Homo sapiens: one gene and its partners. The protein of the gene in region 1 purifies or fractionates together with the protein of each later gene. This does not show direct contact. Each region holds a gene or a part of one and is shown in the gene's direction. Other genes may lie near its edges.

What was found.
Region 2: the proteins of DAAM2 (region 1) and NFATC2IP purify together in Homo sapiens (affinity purification with mass spectrometry; one large-scale study listed by BioGRID and IntAct). This does not show direct contact.
Region 3: the proteins of DAAM2 (region 1) and OSTM1 purify together in Homo sapiens (co-immunoprecipitation; one large-scale study listed by IntAct). This does not show direct contact.
Region 4: the proteins of DAAM2 (region 1) and C1orf198 purify together in Homo sapiens (co-immunoprecipitation; one large-scale study listed by IntAct). This does not show direct contact.

What each region holds. Positions count from the first base shown.
Region 1 is NC_000006.12:39,869,943-39,878,643, forward strand, and holds part of DAAM2 (disheveled-associated activator of morphogenesis 2), read left to right. Parts: intron 1-397; coding exon 398-501; intron 502-1,563; coding exon 1,564-1,630; intron 1,631-3,295; coding exon 3,296-3,413; intron 3,414-5,387; coding exon 5,388-5,526; intron 5,527-8,260; coding exon 8,261-8,319; intron 8,320-8,461; coding exon 8,462-8,646; intron 8,647-8,701. UniProt on the Homo sapiens protein: Key regulator of the Wnt signaling pathway, which is required for various processes during development, such as dorsal patterning, determination of left/right symmetry or myelination in the central nervous system.
Region 2 is NC_000016.10:28,964,265-28,967,592, forward strand, and holds the end of NFATC2IP (NFATC2-interacting protein), read left to right. Parts: 3' UTR 1-2,828; downstream 2,829-3,328. UniProt on the Homo sapiens protein: In T-helper 2 (Th2) cells, regulates the magnitude of NFAT-driven transcription of a specific subset of cytokine genes, including IL3, IL4, IL5 and IL13, but not IL2.
Region 3 is NC_000006.12:108,041,629-108,050,329, reverse strand, and holds part of OSTM1 (osteopetrosis-associated transmembrane protein 1 precursor), read left to right. Parts: intron 1-746; coding exon of another isoform or gene 747-798; intron 799-911; coding exon 912-1,077; intron 1,078-5,489; coding exon 5,490-5,545; 3' UTR 5,546-8,701. UniProt on the Homo sapiens protein: Required for osteoclast and melanocyte maturation and function.
Region 4 is NC_000001.11:230,848,885-230,857,585, reverse strand, and holds part of C1orf198 (uncharacterized protein C1orf198), read left to right. Parts: intron 1-1,578; exon of another isoform or gene 1,579-1,708; intron 1,709-1,867; coding exon 1,868-1,918; intron 1,919-8,701.

The sequences.
Region 1 (8,701 bases):
ATCCCTGTAGATTAGTTATGCTATGATCATTTCACAAATGGGGAAACTAAAAGTTTTCCCAAGGTCACAAAACCAGATCCAAGATCTGTCTGATTCCAAAGCTTGTGCTCCATGTCACTCTACAACACTGCTCTTTGGTGCTGAAGGCTAGAACTGGCAAGGGGCTTGAAGGAAGTGGGGCAGGAGACCTAAAAGAAGCTGGGCAGTGGGTTTGCTTTAAACTAAGAAATAAGGTCTCCATTCTTTCTTGGAACTCTGGGATTGGAAGCAGCTCCAGGTGAGTTAGCTGTGGGAGATGTGTTGGGTCTGTGGCTAGGGTGGTGATGAGGGCTCCACTGGGGATGTTGTGGAAACTGAGATCTGCCAATGAGTCTGGCCCTCCCTTGGTGACCCCCAGGATAATCTGGAGTTCCGCCTACATCTACGGTATGAATTCCTGATGCTGGGTATACAGCCTGTGATTGACAAGCTCCGGCAACATGAAAATGCCATCCTGGACAAGTAAGTTCCAAGCACCCGTCTCCATTGCAAACCTGTGGGGACAGTGCCTCAGATGGGGATAGTTGGGACCTTTGTGAAGGCTGCCCTTCCCTCTGGAGACCAGCTGCCATTCCCAGCGCAGATTCAGAATCAGCTCTGTGGGGGGAAGGGGTGCCCTTGCCTGTCCTCTTTGCTGACCTGCTTGTCTCATCTCTGATGTTATAGACAGGTGAACCCAGTAGCCCTCAACCATTGCAGTACTTCCCCCTGGGGGGCATGTGGAAATATATGAGGGTACTCTTTGGTTTTCAAACTGGTTGATGGTGGGCAATACTGGTATTGGTTGTTGGGGGCCAGGAATGCTAAATGTCCCGCAGTACCTTCCTGCTCAACAAAGAAATGTCCCACCCAAAATGCTTGCTATAACGCCCTTGTTGATCCAAGGGCACAATTATGTTCCCATGTGATACCAGTGAGGCCCCTCTGGTTCTGTCCCATTAGTTTAGGCTATTTTATTACACTAGGTTTTAAGGGACAGAGGATGGATCCTTTTGAGGTGGAACAAGTGGATGTGTGCATGAGGATAGAAAATGAGGGAGAGATTAGTTTTGAGGGTTGACTTGGAGACCCTATGAAAGTACTGGGGAAAATAGACCAGGGCTGATGTCCTCAACTGAGAGACATTGGGCGATGCCTGCAGACATTACATTCTTGGTTGTCACACTAGGGGGTGCTGCTGGCATCTAGTGGGTGGAGGCTGGGGATGCTGCTAAACATCCTCACAGATCAGCCTCCCACAACCAAAGATAAGCGAGCCCAAAATGTCAGTAGTGCCGAAGTATAGAAGCCCATTCTAAGGTGAAGGGACCCTGGATTGGCCTCCCTGAAGGAAGGTCATGGGATCTTATAAAGGGCAGACAATGGGTGTCCTACAAACAGCGGCTTCTTTCCCATTTTGCCTTCATTTTGCTTGAATGAAGCTTTCAGATTTAGCCAGTGGGGGGCTCGAAGGGGCTGTAACCCTCAACCAAGGGTGTGTCCTGGCTGTAATGTCTACTCTCTCTGTCTCCCCATTCTGTCTAGACATTTAGACTTCTTCGAGATGGTGCGGAATGAGGATGACCTGGAGCTAGCCAGGAGGTTTGACATGGTGAGGAGCCAGCAGGGTGGAGCGATTGCAATGGGGTAGTAGGGTTCTTGGTGGCCCCACAGCCACTTTTCTAGACCCCGTGTTGTGGCAGGGCTGGTGTGGGCTGGTTCCCTGGTGGGCACCCCCATGGCCAGGTCCTGTGATCAGTCATAGTTCTTCATAGAAACACAACCAATAGGATACATATATAGAGATAGACAGATGAGAGGGCATTTATTAGGCGAATTGGCTCACGCAACTATGGAGACTGAGAAGTCCCATGACAGGTCGGAGTTATTGCATGGAGAAACAGGGAAGCCAGTAGCATGGCTCAGTCCAAGGCCAAGGGCCTGAGAACATAAGGGGCCACTGGAGCAAGTTCTGGAATCCAAAAGCTGGAGAGCCTGCTGTTCTGATGTCCAAGGGCAGGAAAAGAAGGATGTCCTGGCTCCAAAAGAGGTAGACAGAAAATTCACCTTTCCTTGGCCTTTTTGTTCTCTCCAGACCCTAAGCTGATTGGATGGTGAGGAGCCCACAGGGTGGAGTGATCGTAGTATGGTAGTAGGGTTCTAGGTGGCCCCACAGCCATTTCTCCAGGCCCTGTGCTGTGGTGGAGCTGGTGTGGGATCTTCCTTACCCAGTCCTCTGATTCAAATGCCAGTCTCTTTGGGAAACACCCTCACAGACATACCCAGAAAGAATTCTTTACCAGCTATCTGAGTATCCCTTGATCCAGTCAAGTTGACACCTAAAACGAACCATCACATCTCACTTCCAGAGCCTTGGTAGTATGCAGGCTGTGGAAGCCTCCCCCGGGAAGGCATCGGCCTAGGAGGAGACTGAAACCCCCAAAGGAAAGGGAGCAAGTTATTGCATGTGATTAGTCTCAAATACCTTTCCTGGGCTGACTTTCCCCTGCCTTCCAGCAACTTCCTGAGTCCCCTCTCCCCATCCCTAACCAGATCATGCTTAGCAAACTAAATTGTATTTTCATTTTAACCTCGGCAACCCTGAAAGCACACAACTCTGCTTTATTGTGTTATAAAATCCCCATCCAAATAGAAAGCTACTTTTGGGTGGTGCTTTACAGTCACTGAGTGCATCCATTATATTTTCACAAAAGCCCTGGATTTATAGATACAGAAACAGAGGTTAGAGGGGATAAGCAGCTTGCCTGTCATCACACAACTAAAGCGTAGATCTGGGGTTTGAACCCAGGTGGTGGACCTGCGCCACATTCCACCTGCTACTTTGAATCCTCTATGCCCCTGCTCCCTTCCCTAGTTTGGATCAGTAGCTCTCAAGCAGGGATGATTTTGCTCTCCTCTCCCCCTGGGGACATTTGCAATGTCTGGGGACATTTTGACTTGTGTGAGGGGGTGCCACTGGCATCTGCTAAGGAGAGGCTGGGGTGCTGATACACAACCTACAAAGCACAGGGCAGCCCCCACAATGAGTAATTATCTGACCCAAGATGCCAATAGTGCTGAGACTGAGAAACTCTAGTTTATAAAATTGACTATCTCCCTGTTCCTTTTGTCTTTCTCTTTTTAAGCCTGGGCCAGAGGCAGGGGAAGAAAACCTTTCCTATGAGACAGGGCATAGTGGATGGAAGCAGGGTCTTCTCTCTCCTGCTGACTTCCTCTGCTGCCTACCCACTGATCACTGTGCCCTCTTCTCTCCCAGGTCCACATCGACACCAAGAGTGCTTCCCAGATGTTTGAGTTGATCCACAAGAAGCTGAAGTACACGGAGGCCTACCCCTGCCTGCTCTCTGTGCTGCACCACTGCCTGCAGATGCCCTGTAAGTACCCTGCACTTGCTGCTTCCCTCGACTGGCCTGAACCTTGACTTGGGGCAGGTTTAGACAAGACTTTGGGACCTCCCTGGTTTGGGGAGTCTGACCATGTCTCCCTGTGCACTTGCTTTTGGGAGGGCAGGCCCCATGACGGAGGCCCCTGCTTTTCCTTCCCTCCTTGGGGTCAGGTCTTCACTGTCATCTGGGGAAGGAGCTGGGGACTTGGCCCTGAGCAACTCCAACATCCTAGTCCAAAAACGGTAGCTTGATCATTGCAAAATTAAATAGCTCAGCTTTCAGCTCATGACGGGGGAGAGATCAGTCATGCTGGGGAGTTCCAAAAAGTTTTGTGCTTGGGGGAGTAGCACAGATGTGGAATGAACATGGTTGTTTTTTTCCTTAAGGTTTTATCAACTCCTTCATCTAGTCCTTGTTGGCTTCCACTCTTGCACTCTTGCCCCTGCTTCTGCCTACAAATACCAAATGTCAGCATCTATGGGAGCAGATGGCTAAGTTCTTAAGATCCAGGTGTGCACAGTGATTGAATAAATTGTACATAATTGCTAATAGCCACTCCAGAATGCAATTTGAAATGAGCTTTAACTGTACCCCTTGGTACTTAAGCTCTTCACAAAAGAGAATATTTTGAAAACCAGTGTGGCCCACCATAATGGTTGATGTTGGCGGTGTCAGCAATCATAGTGACAGTGATGACAACTGTGACTTATTGTGTGCCAACTCTGGGCCAGGCGTGATGTGAGGTCCTTTAGCACATCATCTCTGAACCTTAGAATGACCTAAGGAATACACATTATTATGTCCATTTGAATAGTGAGTGAACCTGAGGCTCAGCGAGATATTTACATATAGAAAGAATTTTGGTTTCTGCGGGGTCAAGGGTTGAGATAAAACATGTTCTGCCTCTTTGAGCTAGTGACCTGGCTTTACACGATTTTGCTGGGTGAAAAGTAGATGGTAAATGATACAACTTTGCAATGCATGTGTCAGTAGACTTGTGGACAGGATAGATGCAGTGACCTGAATTAAGAAGCTATCAGTTCTCCAAAGCTCATTGCAGCAGGTCTTCATGAAGGGCATAGAAATCTCTGGGAAACCTGACTTCTTGTGCTCCCAGGGATTCCTGTGTTTCCTGTTCCATGGGCAATGTGAATGGGTTCTTCTACTCTGCCCCAAAATGGGGCTTTGCAGACTCGATATTCTACCTTGTAGGCATTGTGGTTTGCTTTGATGTCAGGATTGAACTTGTTGGCTTTTTATGATGGTCAATAAAGTGCTAGGGATCAAGGACCAAGGAAAGAGAGTTTGTGGTTATTACATAAAAAGGAAGTCCATGTCCAGCCAGATGACTATCATTAGAGGGGATGAGAGTGAGACTCTATGAGATCACACACAACACACTATGCCTTTACCTTCATAGTTCAAGGTCACTTCCACAAGAAATTTTCTCGAGTTCCATTAAGCACTTCTCTAACCCATTTTGACTCTCAGTGCACACCTGCAATCAGTTTCCCTTCATCTTTCTCTGTAGAGTAATAATGTGGATAATCCTAAAATCTTTTTTAAAAAAAACTTCCCTGGAGACTTCATTATTCAGCATGTAATATTTTGGAGCAGGTGGTTTTTATAGATAATGTAAAAAGCAATCTGCACTTCCTGGGCATAGTATGCCCAGGGTCCAAACAAGGAAGAAAGGCAGCCAGAAAGTATTTCAGGGAGTAGAGAAATATGTTGGGGAGGTGGTTGACACATCCGTAGAAGTCTAGTTGCCGATAATCAAGAGATGACTGAATCAGTGAGTTGCCATTATCAGCAATGGCATTGCCTCTTCTTCTAGACTGGGAGCTTACCATAGGTGGAGAAGGGCATGCCTCACCAGCCAGACCCCAGGCAGCAACTCTAGGGTGGGGCCCAAGGGGGACTTCAGGACTCAGGAAAGATATGATACCTGTCATCCCTCAGACAAACGGAACGGTGGCTACTTCCAGCAGTGGCAGCTCCTGGACCGCATCCTCCAGCAGATTGTCCTCCAGGATGAGCGGGGTGTGGACCCTGACCTGGCTCCCTTGGAGAACTTCAATGTCAAGAACATCGTCAACATGTGAGCAGTGGCCAGCCTTTGCCCTGTCTTCCTCCACCTTCCTCATCACTCTCCCACTCTGGTCTCACCAGCGAAACCTCAGCTCCCTTTCGCAACCCAGTCATCCCGAAATGAGTCTTGGGCAGCATGGTCCAACAGAACTCTCTAAGCTAATGAAAAAAGTGCATTTCTCTACTGTTCAACATGGCAGCCAAATGTGGCTATGGAGTACTTGACACACGGCTAGTATGACCAAGGAACTGAATCTTAAAGGTTGTTTCATTTAAATTTCAATAGCCACATGACACGTGGCTAGTGATTACTCTCTTGGACAGCCAACACAGGTGTATTGGGCATGTTCTCAACTCTCCACGATCCACTGCATGGCTTGGATAGATGGGGAATTTAAACACATTAACGTAGAACAAGGGTCAGCAAACTATGGGTGCATGGGCTGACTCCAGTCCTCCAGCTTATTGTGTATGGCCCATGAACTAATAATTTTTACATTTCAAACAACACACACACACAAGTATAAGTGACAGAGACTATGCATGGTATGTAAAACCTAAAATATTTACTCTGGCCCTTTATAGAAAGTTTGCTGACCACTGACATAGAGCCTGACCATTTGATCATGAGGTTGCTGGATAAGGTTATCAGAGCCTAAGGCCTTCTGGTTTACCATATTTTATTGATCTTGGATAGAGAAACACAGAGAAACATTTAAATCTACATCAATTAATAATAAGGCCTTACATTAACATACTAATTTTTAATTTTAAGCTTTTACTTAACTTTCAGTATGAGTTTGAGCCACTTGCCCTTAAGGAGATAAATTGGCTGTCAATGATTCATTATGTTGCATTCCAAAGCCAAGTACACAATTATTTTCCAGCTATTCTTGCTACTGTTTTCATTTGCATAGTCAGATATTGATGTAGTTAAAATCCTAATTGGTATGTTGGACAAGTGCAACTGGGAAAGTGATCAAAAGGTGACTTTAGTTTTATTTCCTACCAATTCATTACACTATTTAGTAGGCAATCTTTTCCACTGCCAGAGGATAAAAACTCCTGAGGTCCAATGAAGTTTTTAACCCTTCTTGGGTAACAGGAGTCCTAAGATCACTTTCAAGTGCAACATAGTCTGAAATCTACAACTAGGAGGACTAAAATCATGACATGACATTCTAGACATGATTTAGCCTTAAATCTTTCTCCTCCACCAGCTGGGGCCAGGAAACTGGAATGGGAAGGGTGTGTGTGTGTGTGTGTGTGTGCGTGTGTGTATGTGCATATGTGTGCACATATGTCTGTGTGTGATATTTGCCTTCTTTTCTCTGTTCTATTTACCCTGTAACCCCTTCTATCTCCCACCCCTCCTTTCTACAAACCAGTCCGACCCTCTGAAGAGGCAGCCTGGGGACAGGAAGGAAAGAGGGAAAAGGTCTTACTTGATAAGATAATTTAGTAAACAGGCTCCCTGCTCTCTTGCCTTTTTGGCATATGGGTAAAGACGTCAGTGTGTTCCTGGAATCTTCAGAAGTTCCTTGCTGGGTGCCTCTCACTACAAAACCCAGCTCACTGGCCATGCAAGATTTTTGTTCCAGCTGGCTGGCTGCTTCCAGCTCTTCCATCTGTCCCTGGTTCCCTGGCAGTCCACTGCCTGTAGACTTATGGTGTGGATGTTCCCACTTTTCGCTCAGGTGGAAACAGCTCCCCTTGCACAGGACTGTGAAAACTGCACCCCAGTTCCTCCATGAGGCTTATATCTGACCCATGGGCAACCCTCATGCCATCTCTTGTGCCAACGAACTCTAGGAGTGCTGGCAGGGCCCCACACAGCAGTGTTCTTCTTTTGCTCCCAGGGCTTTGCTTGGTTCCAAGTAGGGCCCCAGTCTACCCTACCTCCCTCCCAACTTCAGGGAACATGAGTCAAAACTCTTGGGGAAGGCCCAAAGAAACCCCTTCCTTGGATGGTGGTGAAGGAGGTAGCATCTTGGGGATAACAGCAGTGGCCCTCTTCAAAGAAATGTCTTCATGAAATACTCTCCCTCTCCATACTCTGTTCTCTATGTCCTTGATGTGGCTGAAGAGGCCAAAAGTCATGGGTCTAACTCTTCCACATTCTCAGATTTATAAAGGAAAGGATTCTTGGGATCTCGCTTTGGGATTTCACCTCTGTTAGGCCTTGGTGTCAAGGTAAAAGCTAAATTTGAACACAGTTTCAAGAGCTTGGCATGAACAAGGCTGTCCTCTGTGTCACTCTGAACACATTCAGTCTGTATTGCTGGTGTGGGTGATGTCTCTTGCTCTTACGCATTGGTCTTTGGAAACCTGGACCATGGTAGGGCCAATATTTTGATCTCTTTTAAAGGTAAAACCTATTTTACAAGGAGGTGCAAGTCATGATATAATTCTTGGGAGCCTGAGGTTCAGTCCTAGTTCTACCATTAATTAGCTCTTGCCCTATCCCCATTCTCTGAGCCTCAGTGGCTCCGGCTGTATCACAAAGGGGCCGGGTTATAGGGTATCTAAAGGTCTTTTCTCTCACGGTCTCCACAGACACATAATGTGAACGGGGCAGGGGACCTGGAGAGACACCTGGGAAGTCTAAATCCTAGCCCCCTTGATGTGGCTGGACAGATTGGAGACCAGGGTCCCCACCTGGAGGGTAGAAAGATGATGTCTCCTGGGAAGCTGTGAATCAATGGTCAACAATCACATTGCCCCTTCCCTCTATGCCCTGCCAGGCTCATCAACGAGAATGAAGTGAAACAGTGGCGAGACCAGGCAGAGAAGTTCCGGAAAGGTGAGGGGCTCTGCTTAAGCCTGCTGTCCACTCCACATGCCCTTCCCCTGCCCAGCCCATAACTCCATGCCCTTCCAGGCAGGGAGTCACATTACTCACATTCTCTCCTTCTGTTTCCTCTCCCGTCCCACCCCCATTCCAGAACACATGGAGCTTGTGAGCCGTCTGGAGAGGAAGGAGCGGGAATGCGAGACAAAGACATTGGAGAAGGAAGAGATGATGCGGACGCTGAACAAAATGAAGGACAAGCTGGCCCGGGAGTCCCAGGAGCTGCGCCAGGCTCGGGGACAAGTGGCAGAGCTGGTAGCCCAGCTCAGTGAACTCTCAGTATGCAAGCATCTCCCCCTTTACATAGTTGAGCCAAGACCCTGGGCTTCAGGAC
Region 2 (3,328 bases), on another chromosome or scaffold:
ACGCCTAGCCCAGCAGAGGCCTTAGTCCCATTTGGGGCTTGGGAGTGACATTTGCTTGAGGCTTATACACTGGTGTGGTTGCCTGGCTTGCAGGAAATGACCAAGCTCACACATGCTGGCTGAAGCGTAAGCAGACAACTGAGGTACTCTTTTGAAGGATGAAGGTGGTGGATTCTCAGCCCTGGGGGTCTTCCTCACCTGAGGACCCTTCAGAGCCACCCTTTCTAGTTTGCATTTCCTGGTGCACACATTTAAGGCATAACAGCACATTCATCCCTTTGGTTTGGGATCTCAGGAATACAGTCCCATGCAAAGATTCTCTGGTTTTATGGCTTTTTTCCCTTTCTTTACACCATCCTCTCCCATAAGCACCCATGTCTTTGAATATGAATGTATTTGTAAAATACCACGTTTCATGTGTGAATATGTGCTTTTACTGTACATAGTGCTATTGTGCAATAGGTCTTATGCTGTTTTCACTCAATGTGTGCTAAGATCTAGCCCCATTGACTCTTCTAGAAATGCAGTATTGCTTTGACCTGCCATGTGGCACTCCACAATGTCAATTGCAGTTTACACACATTGCCTAAAGTGGGGGACACCTGGGTGCCCCTGACCCCTTGGCACCGGATACAGGCCACGATAAACATCCTTTCGTGTGTTCCCTTCTGTGCTTGTGTGGCATGTGTACCCAGGATGGGCCTATAGGTCACAGAGGTCAGTTTCTCTTTGGTTTTCCAGATTTTCTTTAGAACGGTGACTGACCCTCCTACTTGAGGCCGCCCTTTTCTCCTTATCCTTGCCAGCACTTGTATTGCCAGACTACCTAATTTTTGCCAGTCTCATGGGTAGATAGTGGTGCAGTGCTTTAACATACATTCATCTGATCAGCATTAATTTGGGGAATTTTTTCACTTAGCCTTTCTGGTTTCCCTTCCTGTGCATTGCCCATTTTCTCATGGAGTTTCTTATCTTTTTTGGTTTATTCTCAGGAGTTGCTTGTACATTCTTGGGCAATTGCAGATAATTCCAAGAATGCATATTTGGGCTGGGTATGGAGGTTCACTGGTAATCCCAGCACTTTGGGAGGCCCAGGCAGAAGGATCGCTGCAGCCCAGGAGTTCGAGACTAGCCTGGGCAACATAGCGAGACCTCGTCTCTACAAAAAAAAATTAAAAAGGGGGCTTTGGGAGGCCAAGGCGGGCAGATCATGAGGGCAGGAGATTGAGACCCTCCTGGCCAACATGGTGAAACCCCGTCTCTACTAAAATACAAAAAATTAGCTGGGCATGGTGGCGCACACCTGTAGTCCCAGCTACTCTGGAGGCTGAGGCAGGGGAATCGCTTAAACCCAGGAGGCGGAGATTGCAGTGAGCCAAGGTTCCACCACTGCACTCCAGCCTGGCGACAGAGCAAGGCTCCACTCAAAAAAAAGATTTAAAGGGGAAAAAATTGAAATTTTCTTTGTATCTAGGGGTATCCGTCACTGAACAGAAATTCTTAATTTTGGCTAGGCGTGATGGCTCAGGTCTGTAATCCCAGCACTTTCGGTGGCCGGGGTGGGTGGATCACTTGAGGCCAGGAGTTCAAGACCACCCTGACCAACTTGGTGAAATCCCATCTCTACTAAAAATACAAAAATTAGCTGGGTGCAGTGGCGCATGCTTGTAATCCCAGCTACTCAGGAGGCAGAGGCAGGAGAATCACTTGAACCCGGGAGGTGGAGGCTGCAGTGAACAGAGACAGTGCCACTGCACATCAGCCTGAGTGACAGAGAGACTTTGTCTCAAAAAAAAAAGAAAATTTTAATTTTAATGTAGACAGTATGAATTATCTTGTTCTGCAGTTGGTTGCTTTTTGATTGCTTATTTAATAGAGTTGTTAAGATATTTTACATCTTCTCCTGTTAGCTGTTCAGCTTTTCCTTTCATATTGAGAACACTACACAGTGCTGAAGTCCAGCTGGTACACACCGGGGTGACACCTTGGCTGCATCTGTTCTCAACAGTCAGACACTTCTTCTAATTGGTTGATGCTGGGCTGTACTGGTTGCTAAATATTGCACATCATTTTAAAACTATTTGAGATGCACTTTTGTACTCAGGAGGCCAAGGCAGGAGGATTGCTTGAGCCCAGGAGTTTGAGACCAGCCTGGGCAACACAGCGAGACCTTGTCTCTTAAAAAAAAAAAAAAAAAAAAATGAGAGAAATCGGCTGGGCATGGTTTCTCATGCCTGTAATCCCAGAACTTTGGGAGGCTGAGGCAGGTGGATCACCGGAGGTTAGGAATTCAAGACTGAAACCTTGTCTCTACTGAAAATACAAAAAAAAAAAAAAAAAAAAATGAGCTAGGTGTGGTGGCAGGCGCCTGTAATCCCAGTTACTTCGGGAGGCTGAGGCAGGAGAATCGCTTGAACCCAGGAGGCAGAGGTTGCAGTGAGCCAAGATCGCGCCATTGCACTCCAGCCTGGGCGACAAGAGTGGAAACTCTGTCTCAAAAAAAAAAAAAAAAATTCAGTGAAATACACCTTTATATATGAGATCCAAGTTTCACTTTTTGTGATATAATGAGCCAGTTTTCTCAGTAATGTCTACTAAAAAAAAAGCCATTAACCTTTCTCTAATATTTGCATGATTCTAATAAAAGTATGTCAACTTCTTAAAATGTTTTATTGAAATGTGGCATTCCTTTGAATTTTATGACATTAAAATAATCCACGACATGGTACAGCTCTTCACTTTTTCAGCTTTTTAAATGTCCATTAATAAGTTTGAATACGTTAAAATTATATGTTTAACCTCAACAAAATAAATGGCAATATGTTCAACTTGTGTATACTGGAGGATTTTTGTCTTTGTGGCCCTCATGTGACCCCCACTAAGATCCTTGTGACAGAGACAGGAATAAGATCCTTATTCCTTCACATCCATTCTTCCTCCTTCTGTGGTACTAGAACCCATGGTTTTTAGCGAGGCACAGAGACACTCAGAATAAAAACAGTGGCCAGGCATGGGGGCACACACCTGGAATCTACCTAGCACCCTGGGAGGCTGACGTGGGAGGATCGCTTGAACCCAGGAGGTTGAGGTTGCAGTGAGCTATGGTTGTGCCAACCCACTCCAGCCTGGGCAACAATCAAGACCCTGTCTCAAAAAAAAAAAAAAATTAAGACAGTACTTCCTGGCTTCCACTGTAGCTAGATGTAGCCAAGTGCCAATACAGGCTCCTGGGGTGTAAGTGGAATGGGGTATCACTTCCCAGAAGTGTGCATAGCGGGCAGCTTGTCCCCTCTCTTTCACTTGCCTCCTGCCTGCTTACTGGAAGTGG
Region 3 (8,701 bases), about 68 Mb from region 1:
GAAGCCATTCCTCAATCACTTCCTATTCCATTGTTTTATTTTCTTATATCTATTACCATCTGAAAATATTTATTTATTTATTTTTAGTCTGTCTTCCTCACTAAAATATAAGCCACATGAGGACAAGGACTTAGGCTTTTTTTGTTCACTATTCAGTATTTAGGACAGTATTTAGGACAGTCTAGCATATAATGGGCTTAATAAACATGTATTAATTGAATGGTCAAAAAAAATTTTTTTTTCTCCATTTTATAGCCTGCCTTTACATAGGGTGCCACTAGATGGCAATCATGCCTTTTTAGGCACTATGATGCTGGAGTTTTGGGGCATTAGAGGAAACTGAGAAATTATTGGCTCAAAGTAGAGAACTTGAGGTCAGAATTAATGAGCTTAAGAATTGAGAATGTGTGAATTATCACAGCAGCTCAGAGGGAACTATAAGAACCAATAATATTCGAGATGGTAAAAAGTACTTAAAATGAAATGTACAGTGTGGCTTTTTGTTTGTTTTTACTGCTCCATTCCTATTGCCTAAAACAGTACCTGGTTTCTAGTAGGCTCTCAATAAATAATAAATATTTTGTAAATGAATAAAACAGGGCCTAACTATATTCCTCTTCATATAAGTTCTTTGTTTGAATGTACAAATGGTTGACATTCTAGAATACTTTGGTCAGTATTATGGACTTAGAATATGAAATTTCTGTATGGATATAAATTTCTACAATGACTGTATTTTGAACCAGGTTTTTTTCCTGGCAGAAGAAGTTGTCCTCAACTATCAGTAGGTTTTTAGAGGTATGTATTGAGTCTAAATTCTAGATTCCTGTTTAGTTATTAGCAAAATAATTATAAGAAATTGAAGACAAGTTAAATATAAAATAGAAAGATATTGTTTGCTCTTGTTCCAGATGAACATCACTCGAAAACTATGGAGTCGAACTTTCAACTGTTCAGTCCCTTGCAGTGACACAGTGCCTGTAATTGCTGTTTCTGTGTTCATTCTCTTTCTACCTGTTGTCTTCTACCTTAGTAGCTTTCTTCACTCAGAGCAAAAGAAACGCAAACTCATTCTGCGTAAGTTTTTTACAATTATTTATTTTATAGATAAAAGCCTGTATTTTAAAAATTTAGGCCTGTTTTAGAAATGATAGCTACTCTGAGAACTCAAAGTAGATTAGCCTAAAAGGACTCTCTGCTTTAAGTTTTACAATCATGCTTACTAGTGAAAGAGATCTGTGAAAATTTTATAAGTGTGGACAATAAAAAGTTAAAACAGGGCTAGGTGCAGTGGCTCATGCCTGTAATCCCAGCACTTTGGGAGGATGAGGTGGGCGGATCACGAGGTCAGGAGATCGAGACCATCCTGGCTAACACGGTGAAACCCCATCTCTACTAAAAATGCAAAAAATTAGCCGGGCATGATGGCGCATGCCTGTAGTTCCAGCTACTCGGGAGGCTGAGGCAGGAGAATCATTTGAACTTGGGAGGCGGAGGTTGCAGTGAACCGAGATCGCACCACTGCACGCCAGCCTGGGAGACAGAGTGAGACTGTCTCAAAAAAAAAAAAAAAAAAAAAAGTTAAAACACAGTGTCTTTCAGATGATTAAATTGAGAAAGCTAGATTACCCCTGGAATAAGGTTGGCAACAACAGAAGAATAACAACAGAGGCTTTGCACTCCTAACATGGCAATAGCAGGGAGATACAGACAGCTCTTAGACCCATCGGAGTCATGGTAGAACCACCTAAGTGTGGCAGGCAGGAAGAAACTATAGCTGACATAACAGACAGTTTGTTTGTGAACAAATTGGAATCGTAGTTCCAAGGAGATTACTTGATATAATAGTATATGCTCAATACATATTAATTCCCTTTCTTTCTCCCTATGAAATAGGCCAGAGCAAAAGAAGCACTAACTAGAGATCCCATCCAGCTAAGGAAGAGTGGCTTCTAAGTCACGTGGCTTTCTTGTTTATTATCAGAATGAAAGTACAGGCTTATGCCTTAATAATTTTAGTTTTTAAAAAAGAGAACTGTTTAGGGGAAAAGGTTAATTTTCTTTTCTCTCAAATACTATTTGTAGTCTAGGAATGTCTGATATAAAAATTCTTTTCCCTATAAATTTCGATCACTACTTCATCTAACTTCACTTCTAATATATCTAATTTTTTTAAAAAAAGGTTACCTGTAGATCAGTTTGAACTGAATTTGTAATGTTTTGTCACCTTAAAATGCTAGCTACTAGAGGGGAGAGTCTTTGTCATGGGTGTATTTATTAAAGGTTTTTTGAAGGCTGCCAGCATTCTGTAAATATGCAGTAGCTCAGGTCCTTAAAGCACTTACTTAGAATAATAGCAAAATATTGTGGGCACCTCACCATTGAGAAACTATTTTTCAGAGCTTGGTATACTTTTAAAGTTTAGCATCTTATTTGCCTTGCTAATCTATTTAACTTTATGGAAAGTATTTACTGCTTCTGATCAGGATTTTTTGTTTGCTGTCAAAGTAAAAGTCACTACCAGTGTCACTATTTGCTATGGAAGCCACAAACCTTGTAGTCATTTCTTAATTATTTTCTTTCTTTTATTTTTCCATTCCCACATTCCCCTCTCATCCCCTTTTAATTCATTAGCAAGTATGCTGCCAGTTCTGCTTAGTCCGTCTCTCTCCCTCCACTGGTAAACCCTAGCCCAAACCATCTTCATCTCTTATCTGTACTAACGCAAGAGCCCCTTAACTGGTATCCCTCCTTCCATTTCTTGATCTACTAAAATCCATACGCCACATAGTGGCTAGAATAATTTTTTAAACACAAATTCACCATGTTTCTCTACTAACTTGGAATGCTTAATGTGTTCCCATTGTACCTAGAATAAATCCAAACTTACTTTCCAGGGTCTGCTCTCCAAGCTGTACATGACCTGGCCCATAGCCACCTTTCTAAACTCGTCACATCCATTCTCCTCATTGCTCATGGTGCTGTGGACAGTCTGGTTCCTTTCTGTTCTTCTCCACTACCAAGCTCATTCACACTGCCCCTTTTCCAAGGCCCTTCCCTCTTTACTTACCTGGCTTCTTGCAAGCCAGGTCTTAGCTCTAAAGTTACTTGCTCAAAGAGACCTTTTATGACTCCCCAGTCTAAGAATACACCTCTCCATTTGTTCTTCTGTGCCGTCTTTCTTTAATGGCACTTAATCACTTAAACTAATTTAAATTAAATAATTGGTTATTTAAATCATCTTTTTCATTTATTCTCTACTTTATTTGTTTGTCTTCCCTGCCTGAAGGGAGGAGCTAACTGCATTAGAGGTGTTGAAATTCACCGTTAGATGATCCCTGGGCTAGAATTTTAAAGGATGTGGGGATTTATCAGGTAGGGAATATAAAGGCAAGGAAGATGTAGGTGTATGTACTCATTCGTATTTAACTTGTCCAGTTTATTAAGTCATTTGAATTTTGTCAGAAGCTAGATCACTTCTAGTAGTTTTTAACAAAGTAATTCTCAAAAACCCAAACTATTGATTTGGTTTGCCTCCCAAATCTACTGAAGGCTTAAGAAGTAGATTTTAGTTTAGGCCAATGTTTTTAGTTTAAGTTTTCCCTTTATTTTAAGCTGAAGCAGTACACTCGTCCAGGAAGTCATGTTGTGATTTTCCACTTACAGTTGATAGAAACCAGAGACAGGCCGGGCGCGGTGGCTCACGCCTGTAATCCCAGCACTTTGGGAGGCCGAGGCAGGTGGATCATGAGGTCAGGAGATTGAGACCATCCTGGCTAACACGGTGAAACCCCATCTCTACTAAAAATACAAAAAAAAAATTAGCCGGGCGTGGTGGCAGACGCCTGTAGTCCCAGCTACTCGGGAGGCTGAGGCAGGAAAATCGCTTGAACCCAGGAGGCAGAGGTTGCAGTGAGCTGAGATCGCGCCACTGCACTCCAGCCTGGGCGACAGAGTGAGACTCCGTCTCAAAAAAAAAAAAGAAAAAAAAGAAACCAGAGACATTGGTAGGCCAGGCACGGTGGCTCACGCCTGTAATCCCAGCACTTTGGGAGGCCGGGGCAGACGGATCATGAGGTCAGGAGATCAAGACCGTCCTGGCTAACACGGTGAAATCCTGTCTCTACTAAAAATACCAAAAAAAAAAAAAAAAAAAAAAAATTAGCTGGGCGTGGTGGTGGGCACCTGTAGTCCCAGCTACTTGGGAGGCTGAGGCAGGAGAATGGTGTGAACCCAGGAGGCGGAGCTTGCAGTGAGCCAAGTTCGAGCCATTGCACTCCAGCCTGGGTGACAAAGCCGAGAGTCCGTCTCAAAAAAAATAAATAAAATAAAATAAAAAAAGAAACCAGAAACACTGGTTCTCATCCTTGGCTACACATCAGAATTATCTGCAGAGCTTTAAAAAAGTACAGGTACTAGGGTCCCATTGCAGAGCTTCTAAATCATAACCCCTACCCAAGTTTTGTGAAGCTCTGAAGTAGGGAGACTCTTAGTTACTCAGTATAAAATACTCTCACTATGGGCATGATTGTTTTTCATTTCTAGAACATGAGAAACATTCATGTTTAACTATAAGTACAAAACATATTACCAAGCCAAATAGCCATGATTTGTTTTATTAACCCTAATGACTCAGTCCCATTAGCATCAAATCAGAATTGATGGTAACGTATTTTGTTAGCAGCCATATGTGTTTGTGTGTTTATATAACATAAAACTCACTTTTCTTTGAGGATCATTAAAATTTTTTTTTTACAATACAGAGTTCCATAATAATATACAACTCACTTTTCTTTGAGGGTCATTAAAATGTTTTTGTTTTTTTTTTTTCCCATTACAGAGTTCTTTCACTGATTTTTTTTTCATCTGAAAATAGAAGCAGTTTTCTTTCTTTCTTTCCAATATGTATAGCTTTCCTTTTCTTTCTCTTGCCTTGTTGCGCTGGTGATAAATTAGTGGCATGATGTCAAGCAAGACCAGGTATTTTCGTCTTATTCCAGATCTTAGGGGGAAAAATCATTCAGTCTTTCACAGTTAAGCATAATGATTGCTATAGAATCTTTGTACATGCTCTTTATCAGGTTGGGGAAGTTTTCACTGAATTCTTTTAAGAGAAATTCAGATTTGGATTTCTAACTTAGACTTTTAGATGTATAATTTTGTTATTCTACCTTATAGCACTTTCATTGTCTAAGTACATTTATTTCACGTACATTACATATTTAAGATTGTGATGTTCAAGAAGATATAAATGATGTTGTTTTATTTGTACTGCTTCTAACAAAGTCATGTGCAATTTCTAACAAAGTTATGTGTTTTTAAGGTTGGTAGAAAAAAGTTTTAATTAGGTTTTAATTCTTATAAGGCTGGAACTGTTAGGATTCAAACATAGAATTAATAGATAAATACTATAGATTACATAAAAATAGTAAATAATCATGTTTGATAATTAAATTTAAATTAAAATATAATTCTTTTGATTTATCTAGCCAAACGTCTCAAGTCCAGTACCAGTTTTGCAAATATTCAGGAAAATTCAAACTGAGACCTACAAAATGGAGAATTGACATATCACGTGAATGAATGGTGGAAGACACAACTTGGTTTCAGAAAGAAGATAAACTGTGATTTGACAAGTCAAGCTCTTAAGAAATACAAGGACTTCAGATCCATTTTTAAATAAGAATTTTCGATTTTTCTTTCCTTTTCCACTTCTTTCTAACAGATTTGGATATTTTTAATTTCCAGGCATAGCAATGTTATCTATTTTAATGTGTATTTGTCACAATAACAGAACATGCAAGAACAATCATTATTTTATTTTATAGGCATTTGATTACTATTCTAGACTTCTGGTATCTTCTTACTAACATAAATATCTCAAGTAGAAAAGTTTTTGAAAACTAACATTTAAAAATTAATCAGTTACAGTAAAGACTTTGAAAAAGAAATGTACTTGTTAGGAAGTAGCTTAATTACCCCCCATTGCAGTATTATTGTTATATATATAGTTAATATGTTGTACATCACAATAATATATAATTCAGTCTCTAGTTTCCCTAGAGTCATTTTTGAAACCACTGATTGCAAACCTCCCTGACAATTTTTAAAAGTAGTAAGCCACATTACATTTATCTTTGTAAAAAGATTTATGGTAACTGGTTTCTTACTTGACTTTTATAAATAGTATTTTACATCTTATTTTTGCCTTTATTTCATAAGTAATTTAAAAATCACTGGATTGCTTTATTATATTCAGGGCAATATGGATTATTTTTATACCAAGGATTTGCATCGTGAATTACATTAAGTTATTTGGCAATTTATAATTTATTACTACTTTAAATCAAATGTAGCATTATCACACTGTATTTAAATTGTCATTTTTTAAAGGAATATTTTCTTCTTAAGATATATAGAGGATTTTGGAGAAGAGAGACAGGAGGGGTAAAACCAGCTTAAGGTTCAGCGAGCAGAAAGGGACCTGAGAGGATGCTCACTGTAAGACTGTTGGACAGTGGTGTGTATTGAGGGGATGAATCGGAACGATAGTCTCATGCAGAAAATAGTGAGATTAAGATCATCCTTATTGTTTCTAAATTATTTCAATCAGATGAAAGTGATACGATTGAAATGAAATCACATAGTTCGTGCTCAGAAATTCTATTTTGGTATGTTTGTATTAGCCTTTAGAAAAAACACTCCGTTTCAGAATTGTTCACAGTTTTATTTCTTAGGTTTTTAGAGTTCAGGATTTCATTTATTAATTTCTTCTTGCTTTTTTGGTGGAAATAGGCTTTGTTGTAAACATTAAGAATATAAAATCTCCTCTATATAGAAACAAGAATTTTGTTAAAAAGAGAATTTGAATCCCTTCCTATACTATAAAATGCTCTATAGGGAGACAAAGTGTTTCTTTTTTCTTTTATGTTTACTGTTTATGTGGAGTGAAATATAAGGCTCTTGGATGTATAACATACTCAAAAGCTGTTACACTTTCTCTGATCTGCTGTGATCCACTGAAAATGTGCTGGGGTTTGTTCTGCTGTCACTGTTTATGCTGCTGGAACTTAGCACTGTCTTGATTTGAAGCATATGATTGAGAGCCATTTGAAGCAATCTTCATTAATGCAGATAAAACAAGTTTACATGTGCAGAGTTAGAAAATGACATGTTCAATTCTGTAAGTGGTGACTTTTTGAGCACCTTTCAGTATTATGTATTTGTAAAAACCATTGTTTTTGGATATAAAGCTAATAAGCACTTTAAAAAGGAAAAGGCAGCCTTTACTATTTTTTCTGGTTGAGTCATTGCTCTTTAGACCTAGCATCAGCAATAGATTTCAAAGATAAGTATTAAGCGCTACCCTAAAGTGTGTAAGTTTTTCATTTTGTCATATTGAAAAATGATTTGCATAGTACTGAATGTTGACACACAGCTTATATGTATTTACAAGAATATCTTTAAGTGTTTTTTTGACACATTAAAATAAAGGAAATAAGGAAATTGTAAGCTTTATTTGGATTTTTAAATACATTTTTAAAATTTCAGATGTAATTTAACATCACATTTGTTTTTCAGGTATTGAGTTTAGATGCCTACTTTTATGAGTACCATCAGCTGGACACAGTGTCTCATACCTGTATTTGCAGCACTTTGGGAGGCTGAAGCAGATCGCTGGAGCTTATGAGTTCGAGACCAGCCTGGACAACATAGTGAAACACTGTCTCTGCAAAAAATACAAAAATTAGCTGGGTATGGTGGTAAGTGCCTGTAGTCCTAGCTACTTGGGAGGCTGAGATGGGAGGATGTCTTGAGCCCGGGAGGTGGAGGTTGCAATGAGCCAAGATTGTACCACTGCATTCCAACCTGGGCGACAGAGCCAGACCTTGTCTCAAAAAAAAAAAAAAAAAAAGAAAAAAGAAAGTACTGTCTGTCTTAAATTTTGCTGCAAATAAAAATGTACTTTGGATTATTTATTGTTGAACTTGAGAGATAGAAATAACATCAGATATATTTTTTCTTTTTTTTTTATAATTAATTTTTTTTTTTTTTTTTTTTGTAGAGACAGTGTCTCACTATGTTGCCCAAGCTGGTCTTGAACTCCTGAGTTCAAGAGATCCTCCTGCCTTAGCCTCCCAAAGTGCTGGGATTACAAGCATAAGCACCACACCTGGCTGAACATCAGATATTTTAAAGTGTAGCCCAGAGTCTAGTTGGTAAATGTTACTTATATTGGGACTAGTATTTTCTAATGTTTCTGGGATATGCTCCCTATAAAATGAAATGTTTTCCTGGAACAATGCTAATTAGGATTGCATTCCTGGCCAAAGACATGACATCAAATAAGTAATAGACATCACCAGCAATGAATTTTGAAAAGCAAAAAATACTATTAACCTATATAACCATTTAAAATTTAAAAAATTATGTTCCAAGTACCTCTATTTTCTGAGCTAGAAGAAACCTTAGAGGCCATCTGATGATAGATTCCCAGAGCTGGATGGATCCCTAGGGACTACCTAATCTGACTTTCTGTCCACTGCATGGATTCTTCTAAAAAGTATGTCACTTATTTCCCTACCTTATTAAGACTAAATAAGTGGAACATCATAGAGCTCTTTATTTATAACAGTCATTCTTTGATAGTCAACTCTTAAATGGAGACTTGAGATGCTTAAATATTGTACTACTGTGCTTA
Region 4 (8,701 bases), on another chromosome or scaffold:
GCCTCTACTGCACAGAGCCAAGGCACACAGCACAGCCATCAGGACACAGAACCAGATCTCTACCCTGTTGATGGCTGGCTCTTCCTCCTGGGGCCAAGAGCTGTGAAGAGCCTGTGCCCCCACATTGGGAAGTCTTGGGGGAGTGTGAGTGTTGGGAGCGGGTGATTGTGGGGGAAAATCAACCTGTGAAAGGATCCGGGCTTGTGCAGAGTTTGTTTATTCACATATTCTCAAAGAGTGAGTAAGCGTCCGCTACGGGCAGTCGCTGAGTCTTCCGGGCACTTGGGATAGAGAAGCGGACAAAGGCCCTGCTGTGTTGCCCCTGTCATCTAGGGTTGGCCGTGCTTGGGCTGTGCTGGGGAGTCATCACACACTTCCTTCCCTGTCCCCGCTTCTTGGGAATAGGCCTTCAGCTGCCCAGACCCTGGCATGCCTTCGTTATTTGAGTTCAAAGACTGACCTCCCACTGGCTGTTCATGTTAGGAGGCGTCTGCACAGAGAACGCACACTCGGGGTCTGGAAGGCTGAATGTGTACACTTATGTGTTGGTGAGGCACTCCCCCTGCGTGGGCCCTGGCATTTGCCCCCAGTGTCTGAGGCTAAGCTAGGGTGGCGGAGGCTCTGTCAAAAGCTGAAAGAAGAGGGTCTGTGGGCAGAACTGGTTTGCCCTGTAGAGGAGAGGGAAGCCAGACCCTTGACTTAGGGGCGCAGAGTCGGTGTACCTATGGGTGGGAAGAAGACAGTTATCCAGGGATACTTACGGAAGGACATAAATCACCTGGAGTTTTGGGGAGATATGGATATGATCTCCGTTTAAAATATTTTATCCCATTTTAGCCTGTATCACCCAATGTGTCCTGATTTTTTGTTCTGAAAATATGCTCCCAGTAGAAGCAGTCAGACATGGTGCACACCTGTAGTCCCAGCTGCTCTGGACACCCAAGGCAGGAGCATCCCTTGAGCCCAGGAGTTTGCGTCCAGCCTGGCCAACATACTGGGACCCCATCTCTTAAAACAAACCAACAAACAAACAAAAGTTACCCAATCGAAGCTGGACACAGATGAGACATTTGCTAGCACAGGAATAACTGCGGGTAGAGGGTGGGATATAAGGAAAGGTGGCTTCCCCAAGTCATTTGTGCAGGCCAGTGAACAAAACATACTGGATCCAAGGTCAAATTCGTAGTGATTGTTCTATAGGGCTCTTTCTGTCCTGTTCTGTTTGGTGGGGGTGGGGAGTGATTTCAGAGTTCTTGTTATAATTAGTCACATGGATTACATTGGCGTTTTTCTTCATTGATTCTGCTGATCCATGCCCTCGAGCTCTCTGGTAGGCCTGTTGGGGAGGAGGGGAGCTCCTGTATTGGCATTGACTGGCAGATTATGGCTTGGCGTTCTTTTCCCAGATTACCTCATTTAATCCTTACAACAGCCCTGCAAGGGAAGTATCATTTTGCTTTTACAAATGAGAAAACTGAGGCTCAAAAAGGCTGAGTCATCTTCCCATGGCCACACAGCTAATCATTGTTCAGGGCTGAGTCTGTGCCTGATTCTGCTGAGACCATCAAGCCCTCATCCACTCCTACTCATCTCATCTGTCTGAGTCCATTGGGGGGCCTCACCGGCATTCCCTGTTGTCTGTTTGGCTGGGGAGGGGAGTGTCTGGCAGCCTCAGCGGGAAAGATGAGGGAGCAATCTGATCAAGACGGTCAGCGCATTATATTGAGAGTGTCAAAGCATCAGGCTTGTTTAGAGCCAGGAGTTGGGATTATTCCTAAGTTTTGGTTCCCCCACGGTCCTGGGTGGATATTTGCATGGGGTATGTCTGGGTTTGAATTTCAGACTTATTCTCGATTTTTTATTTCAGGATCTAACTTGGCAAGATGAGCACTCTGCCCCTTTCTCCTGGGAAACAAAGGTAAGTTGGATTAAATTTAGATCTATTTGTTCTTTTAAAAAGAACTGAGTAGTTGTATATTTTTCTTTCAGCATTTGATGGACTCAGAAGACAGCCCCCTGACTGCCAGGCTGCAGGGGATGTGTCCATTGTTGGTAGAAAAGGAGGGGATGGGAGGAGCATGGTGAGGAATTAGGAAACTATTGTGTGTGGTTTGGTGATAGTGAGTTCAAAGTAGTAGTGCTTTCTGCCAGGGTCCAATGACGCCCCATGATGCCCATTGTCTAGGACTCCCGGCCAGCTTGGTTAAGGGGGCCAGCCCTCTTGGGGGCCCTGTCTCTGCTCATACCTCTGGTTCCCAGCACTTAGCACCTTGATGGGAGATGCCCCATAAGACAAAGCTTTGAGCAAATGGGAGGTGACGAGCTGATTGATAGACATAGACATCCATTTAGCTAATTCATCCCAACGTGGATCACTAATTCTGTCTCCCAGTCATTCTTCTTCTCATCATTATCATCATCATCACCAGAGTTGCTTAAGAGCATCAAGCTTCACTGATTTTAATTCATTTTCCCCATCTCCTAAGTTGCCCCAGTAGAAGTACATTCATAAGCAAAATGACTAAAAGACAGGTGTCTTTAACCCAAGGGACAGAAATAAAAGACCAAGATTTTCTGAATTCTGGAACATTTGGTGATGTGTGTTGGAGGGTTCTTTACGTCATGAGAGTGTGTTACAGACAGAGACGGTGGTGAGCCTGGAATAGGGCTCGGACTGCTGGGCAGATCAGGGTTTTTAAATACTGATACCTCAAGGCACTTGTTTTTTGGTTTTTCACTTGTCCACATCATTGCTGATCAGAGCCCTCATCCCAGCAGGAGACCTATGAGGAGGGTGGGCCAGAGTGGTTCATGAAGGACCCTGAGAGGCCCTCATGTTGGCGACTGTGTCTTAAAATGAAATATTGCCCAAGGGTTCAGATGGACACAAGGACAGCTGACACTGTTCTTGGCACACAGACAGTATTTAGTAAGCTATTGCCGATTGCCCTGGGTGAAGTGAGCTGGCCTCAGGGCGTGGGAGCGTGGGACAATTGAGATGAGTGTTAGAGTTAAGAGGTGGTTTTGGGGAAGGCATGGCATTAATGTAGTCTCCCTAGGGATCGGGTACGGGTTGCAGGGGTGACCAGCACTGTCTTGGGAGAGAGCACAAGATGTTAAGGAGCCGCCTGCAATTGGAATAGCTTCTAAATCCAACACTGGATCCTGTGTCTACTGACATTGCAAAGGAAGTCATAAGTGGGTAAAAAGTGCATCATTACATTGATTCTTAGCCAGGGCCCTCAATATTCCTCTTCTATGGGCTCCCAAAATGGGTAATTGTGAGAAGTACTAATCCTATAGATGATATCTAGTGGTAATAGCCAGATAGATTCTCTGTGTGTTGGAAATGAGCAGCCTTGGGTATGGTGACCCAGAAAGCAGTGCAGATTTTCCTGGACTGGGTCTATATTTGAAGATATCATAGTGATAAAGGCAAAGGAAAGTAAAAAATAGTTAAAGTGTCCTAAGACCTAAGCTCATCATGTTCCCCACGAGAACATCTGTTCTCTTAAGAATTTAGCTTGTTAAATGTTCCTGAATCAGCTATTTGTGGGACAGGACATTTCATCTTTTATTAACTTGGCATAAATGACATTCTGGGACAAGGTGGTGCAGCTCCTGGAGTGGCCACTGATACAAGCACAGCTGCTGGGGCCAGAGTGGGAAACAGGTGCCTGGCGAAGATCTCGAGAAAAAAGAGAGCAAGTACAGTCCACTTGAATCACACTTGTGCTGAGAGGCTCATTGTCCACAGATGCCAGCATATCTGGTCCCTTAGGAACCAGTGTAAGTTGAGGAAGCTTGCTAAAATCTGGTTAATATGTGTCACCCATCAGAAATTGCATCCTTTTAGTAAAGTGTAGTCTTCATAGCTCAGAGTTGGCAGTTTCATTTCATACTCCTGTTAGATTAGAGTTCCAGTTTGTTTCACAAACTGTTGGGCTCACTCTGTGTCCTCACCTTCCTGTTTGATCTCTCGAGGTCAGACTTACTATAGTTTACTATTAGAAACGTCTAGGGGCAAAATAGAGCGTATCTCAGAGAGCAAGGGAGCTGTCCCTTCCTCCTTCTTCACTAGGCAGTGCCGAGTTTTAAAAAGCCCATCACTCATTCCTCCTTTGTCTTAACCCTGGAGTGCCCTGCCATCCTGCTTGAAGAGATTTGCCAAACTCTTCTTAGGACTTAAAGGCTTATAAGATCTTCATTGGAGAGCCACAAACAGGAGGTGGCTTTAGTGAAGGTAGGACCCCCTAATCTCCAATTGCAGGACTGGAGGGAGACTTGGACCCCATTTCTTGTTACCTCTCAACTGATGCCTTCCTCACTCTATCAGTTCTCTATAGATGCATAACAAACTTAATGGCTTGAAGCAGCATTTTATGTGCTCATGATTGTGTGGGTCAATGATCGGAGCAGGGCTCAGCTGGACTGTTCTTCCGTTGGCCTTGCCTGGGATCACTTATGTGTCATCTGATCGCCTGATGGGAGCTGGGTGCTCTGAGAACCTTGCTCACGTGTCTGGTTGGTGCTGGCTGTTAGCTGGGCCACATGTCTCCAGCAAGCCAGCCTGGACTTCTTCACACAGAGGTGGAGAGATCCGTGTGCGGGAACGGAAGCCTACGAGGACTCTTTTGAAGCTTAGGCTGGGCAATTGCATAGTATCACTTCTGCTCTGTTCTGCTGGTCAAATCAAGGCACAAGCTGGGCCAGATTCAATGTTTGAGGAAAGAGATTGCACCTCTTGATAGAAGAGCTGCAGAGAGTTTGCACCCATTTTAAATCTAAGATTGTATGATGTCATTCATTCCTTGGTTAACCTTGGCCATTTCTTTCCATTTTTAATTAATCACTCATTGATTTTTTTAAGTTTTATTTTTAATTGTGGCAAAATACACACAACATAAAATTTTCCATCTTAATCATGTTTATGTGTATAGTCTGGTGGCATTCAGTACATTCACATTTTTGTGTAAACATCACCATCATCCATCTCGAGAACTCTTTTTAAAAATTATTACTTTTTAATTGACAAATGAAAAATTGTGTATATTTATGATGTACAACAAGATGTTTTGATACGTGTGTACATTGTGGAATGATTAAGTCAAGCTAATCCACACCTCCAGAACTCATCTTGCAAGACTGAAACTCTGTTCCCATTAAAGAATGACTGCCCCCCACTCTCACTAGCCCATGGCAGCCACCATCTATTTTCTGTCTCTGAAATCATTCATTGATTTTTTTTTTCCAGTAGATATTTATTGTATACCCCGTTTATGTCAGACATTATGCTGCAGGCCCAGAGTTGAGCATATGCCACTTCTGTGCTCGAACAACAGCTCAGTGAGTGGACAGCTGTGTTTGGTGGCAAATCTCACTCAGCACAAAAGCTATAGCCACCGAGTCACTCCAGTCATTTTCTCCATACGTTTAACCCAAATTTGTACACATGTTGGGTAGATGTAACCTCATGCCCTTCTTCAGCTATTCAGTTCAACAGACATTTAGTGGATGCCAGCAGAGTGCCCAGCTCTGACTTCTCCATCCCCTGACGAATCTACCTACACAAGGGTAAGCCTGACCCAAGGTCATGGCCATGGGCAGAGTTAAGAATCGCAGGGATTTTTGGTTTCTCACCCAACTGCTGCACCTCTGTATGGGTTCCTTTCTCTTGGCCAGCCCATGACCATTCCACCTCCACAGAATGAGCTGCGGTTGTGCTTGGGACCTGTGGTCGCTGCCCCCATGCAACGCAGCTTTGATCAGGAGAGCTCGCTGCAGCCTCACAGTAGCAGCTGTGCACCCACCTGGTTTTCCAGCCTGTCCACCCTGCCTCGGTTGCCTCCTCTGAGGCTGATCGTGGCTGTGGTGCCTCTGTTACCCAGACTTCTTCCATCACAGAAGGGAGGCCTGCCTGTCCCAGAAGGGTGGGGGTGGTCGTGATTGTCATCTTTTCCACTCATCTATCAGCTTGGCAGGCGTGCCAGGGGAGAGGGGGCCAGTGGGGACCTAATGTTGCATTCCTGTCTCATGCTACTGCTGTTTCGAGAGGAAAAAACTCAGCACTTAGAAGGCTCCAGACAGGAGGAGGCAGGGAGTGGAGAGAGGATTCTTTACATTCCCCAGGCGGTCTGGGCTGGAGAATTCAGAGGAGAAAATGCCTTTGGGGCAGGTCAGGCCCTGCTTCAAAGTTGGCTGGGCTCTTGGGACCCCATCCCCAGCCTTGGTTGGCTGGGCTCTTGGTTGGCTGGGCGTTGTGACCCTGTCCCCAGCCTTGCCCCTCCCCCAAGCTGTCTGGCTGCTTCTCCTTTCTGGCTACCCCCTTCCTTCACCTGATGTCCAGCTGCCTATTAGGGCAGTAAGTAGGTTGGGCTGGGGATCGGTTCCTTGATTTCATGGGTATCAAAAGATCTTGGGGGGCTAATATAGATCATTCCCAGAGTAGGGAAGCCTTCCAGACGCCTCCTTGGGAAGATACATAAGCATTTATGAGCACAGGCCCTTCCTCTGTGCTGTGCCCATGATAGGGATGTGTGTGTACTCTGAATTCTTTCACCCTTGGGAGGCTGGTGTCCCTGTTCACGCTGTGGGTCAGGACACCGGGATGCAGGGGGTCAGGTGCCTGGCAGGTCGAGTGGGCGGAGAGCAATTGGAGCTCAGGTCTATCTGTGACTTTCGGGGCTTTGCTGCCCATGGTGGGACAGAAGGGCTGTTCCAGCAGGATGTTCCTGGACATAGAGGATTCATTGGCTCTGCTCAATGGTTCCTCCTCACTACCAGTCACGGGGCTTCTGAGAGGCAGGACACCATGGGGCTGCATCCACCCACCCGCAACTTGGTCTCTGTGCTTCTCACCGAGACCCCCATCTCTGCCCAGCAGTCCCCTCCCTCCCTCCTGCCCTTCCTCTGGGCTGTGCCTCACCCCTTCCTGAGACAACAGCAGACCCCTGTGTGCCCCTGCTCTTGGCCTTTCCCTGCTCTCCATGTGTGTGGGACGATGCGTCACTCGCTCAGCCCTGCCCTCAGCCCTGCACTGCCATCCCACAGGCTCTGTTCTCACCCACCTCAGGGACCATGTTCTCTTGGACCTCAGTGTTTTGCTCCGTCCCCTGACCCCTATCCACCTGAGAAGGCCCCACTTGCCCTCCAGACTCAGCACAAATCCTCTTTTAACAGTTGTCCCAATCAGGAATCTCACCACGTGCCGGGTCTGTGCTGAGCACCCTCCCTGCATTGCAGAGTGTAATCCTCACAGCAACCCACCTTACAGATGAGGAAACTATGGCATAAAGTGAAGATGTGAACCAGGCAGTCCTAAGCCCAGTGCTGGGCTCTTAAGCCCTATGCAGCTTCCAGAGTTACCCTCTTCCCTGTTACCGTTAGGAAGCACTGTGATAGAGGAAAAATGGGGATCATGCTGATGAATTCCTTGTTGGTGCGTCTTTGTCCCTGTGAGATGATGAGCCCAGAATGGCAGACACAATTATTTGTCCCTTAACCTTGACAACCCTGGGGACTGGTGCACCTCTGCACCCATTTCCTGTTGGGCCTCAGCTGAGTTCTCCCTGGCTGGTGTTTTTTGCCTTAGAGGCTGACGGGGTGGATGTTTGTTTGCTTACGTTCACGCCCCGTCTCTTTGGGCCCCTGGGTTTGTCCCTGTCAGCTGCCACTTCTACTAAATTTGTGATTCTAAAGGTTTTTAGTATCCTCCTGCTCATCTTCCTCCTCTTCCCTCTTTGGAGGGGAGGTGGGAAGAATAGATGTTAAGTGGTTGGTGAATGTATTAGGATTTGCTCCAGTAAATGATGATCTTTTCTGACAAGGCTTCTGTAGCCTTTGTCTCAACAATTTAGATCTGTCCGAGGCTGCCAAGCCAAACAGTTAGTTTTGGCAGCCTGCACTCGTCTTTTACTGAAATATTACACATTCCTCTTCAGTGAGTGGGACGTTAAAAATAGACACTGGGCTCGGTTGTGGTCCTTCTGTTTTTAGAACAGACATGGCCAACTGAGACCCAGTTCCCCGCATGGGGTGACTGACGCCCAGCCCTGGCCTGGCTGGAGGGAGTCCTCCCAGCAGAGCCTCCGTGGGCACTTGGGACATTGAGGCTGGGCTGTCAGTGTTGCCGTCAGGAGGGACGGCTTCCTTGTGGACTCTCCTATCTCCCCTGTCTCAAAGACTATAGAAGACCACTAAGTTGCATCCCCAAACCCCGGCTTTCTGTCTGTGGCCAGCGCCCATGAGTTGGCGTCCCATGGCCCATGGGTTCCTCCCCTTCATGAGCCTCATCCTCCCGCCAGCCCTGGCTCCCTGTTGCTCAGTGCCGTGGGAGAGGGCTGGCATGACCTCCTTTCTCAAGAGCCCAGCTCTTTTTCCACACCTGTAGAAAATGGACTTTTGTTCTAGGAAAGTCTAGGCTGTGCCCTGGACTGGAAGAGATGGGGAGTGGCCAACAGTGTGGAGTCACCGAAGCAAAAAGCAGTAAAACTTACTTTGAAATGGCAAAAGGGGCTCTGCCTTCCTATGGTCTGCATGTCGGTGTGTCTTTGAAAATGAGCTTGGAGCCACTTTTCGCTCTGTCCTGGTGCTGTGTGCACACATACCAGTACAGGTCCCCCCTGGGTAGAATGAGGTCCCTGGGCAGGATGGGCTGCAGTTCCTGAGAGATGGGCTTGATCTCCCCTGGGCCCCCACCTGG